2 separate regions of the Homo sapiens genome follow, and region 2 is linked to region 1. The links come from fine-mapping of genetic effects on gene expression. Tissue or cell type: fibroblasts. Region 1 holds a variant in brackets; the other region holds the start of a gene. All regions are shown on one strand. Distances are from middle to middle.

Evidence for each region. PIP is the estimated chance that this variant, and not a neighbour inherited with it, causes the effect.
Region 2: it holds the start of QTRT2, and the variant in region 1 is fine-mapped to the expression of QTRT2 in fibroblasts (GTEx, PIP 0.91).

Annotation. Positions count from the first base shown.
Region 1 is chr3:113,962,000-113,964,685 of GRCh38, reverse strand. ZDHHC23 (zDHHC palmitoyltransferase 23) reads right to left here. Exons shown (of 5, transcript NM_001320466.2): 5 at 1,313-2,686. It overlaps CCDC191 (coiled-coil domain containing 191), which reads left to right. Exons shown (of 17, transcript NM_020817.2): 17 at 1-549. Among named protein-coding and RNA genes, the nearest start is that of ZDHHC23, 15 kb to the right of the region's middle. The variant C/T (reference allele first, on the strand shown) is at 1,326.
Region 2 is chr3:114,055,126-114,057,811 of GRCh38, reverse strand. QTRT2 (queuine tRNA-ribosyltransferase accessory subunit 2) reads right to left here and starts at 1,075. Exons shown (of 10, transcript NM_024638.4): 1 at 948-1,075; 2 at 706-813. It overlaps CCDC191 (coiled-coil domain containing 191), which reads left to right and starts at 1,286. Exons shown (of 17, transcript NM_020817.2): 1 at 1,286-1,435. The coding sequence starts at 1,346. RefSeq lists an enhancer at 1,135-1,544.

The sequences.
Region 1 (2,686 bases):
CTTTCACCACCCCTGAAGGCAGACCATGTATGAAAAGGTTCTCTACACAGCTGCTGCAGAGGACAGCAGCTTATCCTGATTTCAGAGAAACTGAGGCACCAGAGATGCTTCTCTTCCGTGCACCTTGATAAGCATGAAGGACATTCCAAAAGGTAATAGCTCTATCATGACAGTCCAGCAATTCATTAAATTATCTGTTCATGCTCCCACCTGCAACTGCTGAATAATACACTCAGTTTGTCTTCTAGTACTCAGCTCAGTTTGATCTAGATATTGAGATACCTATCTTGAATTCAAAGAATGTTTTCATCTTTAAGATGCTATAAAGACTGATAAAATGCTCTCTTCTATGAATTGTGTTAGAGAATTACCTGCTAGAAAAATAATTTTTCATTATAAAATACACATTTATTATATAACAAATTCAAGTAGTCCATAAATGCATATGGTAAAATGAGAAAGTCCTGTGCAGTCCTGAGATGATTACTCTTATTTGGTGTGCTGAAAATTTGAGTTGACAAAATAAAATTCTGTGGTTTTTTAAGTGAATGTTCTTGTTACTGTCTCATACTTCCTAGAAAGGATATCTAGCTGTACCACCTGCTACACGACTTAAGATACTTTTATCACGGAGGATGTGTGATATGACCAAACACCTTGAATTGAACTTTATTTCTTCTACGACATGGCTGTTCCCACACAGCTTTTCCTTTAATAGGATTATACAGTTGTCATTTAAAAAAAAAAAAAACCTGTGTTTTTCAAGATGAATGGCCACTAAAGAAAATGTAACTAAAAGTAATTCATAATACATCACTTTCCATCAAAATCACTAACAGTTTAAACCTAACTACAGTACATTTACAAAATACTGGCTGATATTAGCACCCGGAAATGAAATACCAATTTTATTATTTTGTTTGTTCTGTGTTTTTTTTGTTTTGAGACAGGGTCTCACTCTGTCACTGTACTTCAGGCTGGAGGTAGAGTGGCCTGACTATGGCTCACTGAATCCTGGACCTCTCAGACTCAGGTGATCCTCCCACCTCAGCCTCTCAGATAGCTGGGATTACATGCCCAGCTAACTTTTTTTTTTTTTTTTTTTTTTTTTGGTAGAGATGGAGTTTCACCATGTTGCCCAGGCTAGTCTTGAACTCCTGGGCTCAAGTGATCCTCTCAGCCTCCCAAAGTGCTGAGATTACAGGAGTGAGCCACCACACCCAGCCACCAGTTTTCTTTAAATGCCAAGCCTGTACATAAGGTTGAGTTCCTTAAGTCAACATGCCAGGCGCATAAATAAATCCCACAAAGCTTAAGTTTTCTAC[C/T]TTAGCTTTATTTTTGCCTCACCTCAAACATCAACTAGAAATTGAGTCTTTAGCAGCCCATATTCCAATGGCGCCAGCTAGACTTTTTACCGAATACAGAGCCTTCTAAAGAGATACAATGGAAATAGTTTTGATGCTGTTTTTTGCTGGACTATCATGAAAGTATGTTTCAAAATGTTACTGTTAACATAATGCCCCAACAAGCAGTATCCCTGACCCACAAAACTGGAGAAATTGCCACCGGGAACATAACAGTTTAGGGCTAGGGACAGGGCCACAGGATAGAGACATTGAGGGAGCCACAGAGGCAGCACAGGTATAATGCAGGGTTTTCAGAAATCAGAAGACTTCAGGAGACACTCCAAGAAACACCAGCTATTTTCCTTAAAGAAAGCACTTTATTTTCCATTTAAACAACTTGGTCACAGGACGTTATTTTACATAAATGGAAGTAATTTGTAAAATTTCCATGTAAAAGGCCTTGTGTCTGAGTCTGAGGTGATAAGAGGATATGAATACAAGTATATAAAAACAGTGCAAAATGTGCAGCCCACAGCCTCCGGAGTTGGCTTCAGAAATCCCCCTTAATGTTGCTAGACCAGTTACATTAAATATTAAATGTAACACCAGGTAAATATTCCTGGGTTTCCTTTAGTCTAACATCCAACCCAGATATGCAATAAAATGAAAAACTCAAAATCCCTAACAACTCAAACCATCCAATCACCCAGACCATTAGGATCACAATGAGTTGAGACTGCAGGCTCTATACTGTGACATCTCGTCAGTGGCTCCATCTTAAGAAATACAGAATTTTAGTTGCATCAGTAACTAGAATAGACTAGCTCTGCTTTTAAAGCTTTGCCTTTTAAATGTAGATTTCTAGAAGTTCACTTTCAAGGTGCCATCAAGAAGGCTAGGCCACTAAGAAGTCACAAGCCCAACCTAGACATCGCAGCCTCTTAAGACATTTGTCTTCACTAACCGTTCAGTCTTTAACCTGCTGCTGATCCTACAATGAAAACACTTAGTGCCAGCTGAAGCGTGGATGCTTGTCTATCAGCAACATAATTAAGTGTAGCTGATTCTGCAAGAAATTTATATTAGTCACAGCAGACATCCACAGGAACATACTGAATCGTACTCAGTAGTGAGTTTAGGATGGCTTTCCTGCTCCCCTGCATCACCCTTGCAGTGTTTAATACAAAAGGGTGCACATGTCAAGCTGCCGCTGAGAAAACCAGATTCCAAACAGGTGCCTCAGGAAAAGTCTCTTATTATCCATTGCTTGCTTAAGCAACCTCTACTTTTCAAAATGGAAGGTACCAGAATATGGCTACAATTAAGTTAGGTCATATAAA
Region 2 (2,686 bases), 93 kb before region 1:
ATACTTGCATATGGGAGGGAGTGTTTTGGTCAGGGTTTGCTTTTACAAAAATGGAAACATATTATACTATAATATATGCACTTCTCTGCAATTTGCTTTTCTCTCAAGAATAAACATTAGACGTCTTTCCTGAAGAAGAGACATAAAGCTAACTTACCCTTTTGAAAAAAACTACTTCGTGGTACTGCATAGTTTGTATGAGCACAATTTATTCAACCGCCTTTCAGACAGACCAGTTACAGAGCTGGTCCTAGGATCGCTGCAACAGTCCGAGGGCATAGCTTCCCTAACTTCATTTTCACCAATTTCAAATCAACTTTAGTTTACATTTCCTGGCAGAATGCTTCACATACATTTATTTTTAATCATTACAACACTCCAGTGATTCAGGTATTATCGTCCCCATTTTGCATGAGAAAACAGGGTCTCTGAGTTATTAAACAAGTTGCCTAGGGTCATATAGCCACAAAGTAGTTGAATTCAAAACTCCTGTTCTAAATCTTTACTCTGCTTTATAAGCCCATTTATCACCCCTAAATGGGCTGTCTCTGGAAACACCTCGGCTAAGCCAATAAGCCTGGATTTATCTTTGCTCCATGGGCCATCTCCATGGCCCCAGACCTCCCTAGGCACCTGGCTCAGAGATTGAAGACGGTCCCACCCTCCCATGGGCAGTTCGGAATAAAAACTTCCTGAAAACTCTACCTTTCAGCAGAGGCTAGTCGAAAGGGGCCCTTTTATCTCAGAGGTGTCGGCGACGCTCACACGATTTATGAGAATCTGAACTTACAGAAACCAATCCACCAGGACACCCTGAAAAGGGAAGCAGAGGAGACATGGCGGGAGTACAATCACCGTTACTGCAACACAACCAGGAAGCGTCTGGACGCGACGTGACTCATCCATCTCTAGCAGCTCCCACACCAGCAGGGCAAAGGGGCACTTACCTGCCAACAAACCATTCGACTCTTTCAGTCTTCAGACCCCTCAAACTCCTCACAGTTCACTACCACGTGTTGCAAAATTCTCTGCCCCAAAATCACTGCCTCCAGTGCAGAGCCAATCAGGGAGTACTGCGTCATCACTGGGCGCCAGAAAAAAAGCAAAGCCGACATTCAAGCGAGCCTTGATGACGGCAAGAGCGAGGGACCTCTGCCGTTGCTATGGTAACTGAGCCAACGCGAGCGGCCTGCGCAGAGCCTCGTGGGAGTGGTGGTTCGACGGTGTCCTATGCCTGCTTTCCTTGCGGGCGGAGGAACTACAATTCCCAGCGTGACCCGGAGGCAGCCCGGGCAGAAGGGCGGTTGCTGCAGCTTTGGCCGAGGTTCGGGCTCGAACTTGGAAAATGCTCCTGGCGCCTCAGGGAAGGTCCTTCTCAAAGAAAAGGATGGGGCTGAATCGCTGGAAACGGTTCACAAGGAAGCCGAGTCCCAAGGTGATCCCAATCGAGAGCTTTGGAGGGCGGGGACTTTCCCAAGGCGCGGCGCAGTCAGGAAGCCAGTCGCGGCCCGTCTGTGCTTCCTGCCTCTTCATCCTGAGCTGACACGCCCCTGCCTTGACCGCCCCAAAGCCAGCATTACCCTGAGTGAAATGCTCTAGGAGCTCTGGGGTCTGGGCACATTACGGCTTTGGTGGGCAGCATCGTGGAAGAACTGTTTGTAACGCTTTTCTAAAACCGGAGGTGTCTGCTAATGCCCATCGGGGTGAAAGGAGTTTGCAAACTCCGTTCCCCCTACCTTAAATTTTAGGAAACTTCTCGCACATTTCTTTCTTTTTCTCTCTCTTTTTTTTTTTTTGCAAATCTTGGGGTAATTGATCTTTATTAACGGGAGAGAGCTTCACATTAAATACCCTGCCTATATTCCTGCCCCTTCACTTTTACGTAAAGTATCTAAATAAACTCAGGAGTGCAAATGGATATTGAATACATTAATACTTGATTCACATAGTAATTTCTAAATTCAACCAACTTTCAAAAAATAGATTCTCTCCGTATCTATCACCCATTTGGATGCATTAGCACCTGAAGATAAGAAAAAAATAATAACCCCATTTTAAACTTGAAACATATGTGACATGTGCAAAGTCACAGTTGCACCGTGTGCTTTCCACAGACTACCTTTTTAACAGTCCCCAAAAAGATGCTTAAAATCTAAATGAGAGTACTAAAATGGAGAAGCTTCTCAGCTTTCAGCTACAGAGCAGTTTCACCAGCTGTTTTCACCCTTAAGTTATACTTTCCTAAATAATATTCTGTAGATGTATGTGGCCTTTTTGAGGGCCCCAGGCGATTGTTCTTGCGATTTATTCTAAATTTACCAGCTAAATGCATTGGACATATTCCACATGACAAATATGTTGCCCTAGATACTAGAGGGCACAGACTGAAGCATCAGGGAGACTTGGAAACTGAGGCTGCTGCTATTTCAATACATCAGTTGCATAATGTATTGGATCCAAGATAGGATATAGATATGGACTTGATGATGAAAGGTAAAAATTTAGAATAATTTCTTAGGACTCCAAAAGGAAGGATTTTTGCTGCTAGTGCTCATTATTACTGCCTAGAGAAAAAAAGGTAAAAACATAGGGCTTCTTCAAGTTCAGTTGTATTTTAATTAGATCAGCTCTTTCTTTGTTGCAGTGACAAAATTATTAAGCAGTACAGCTGCGTTAGTTATCAGTA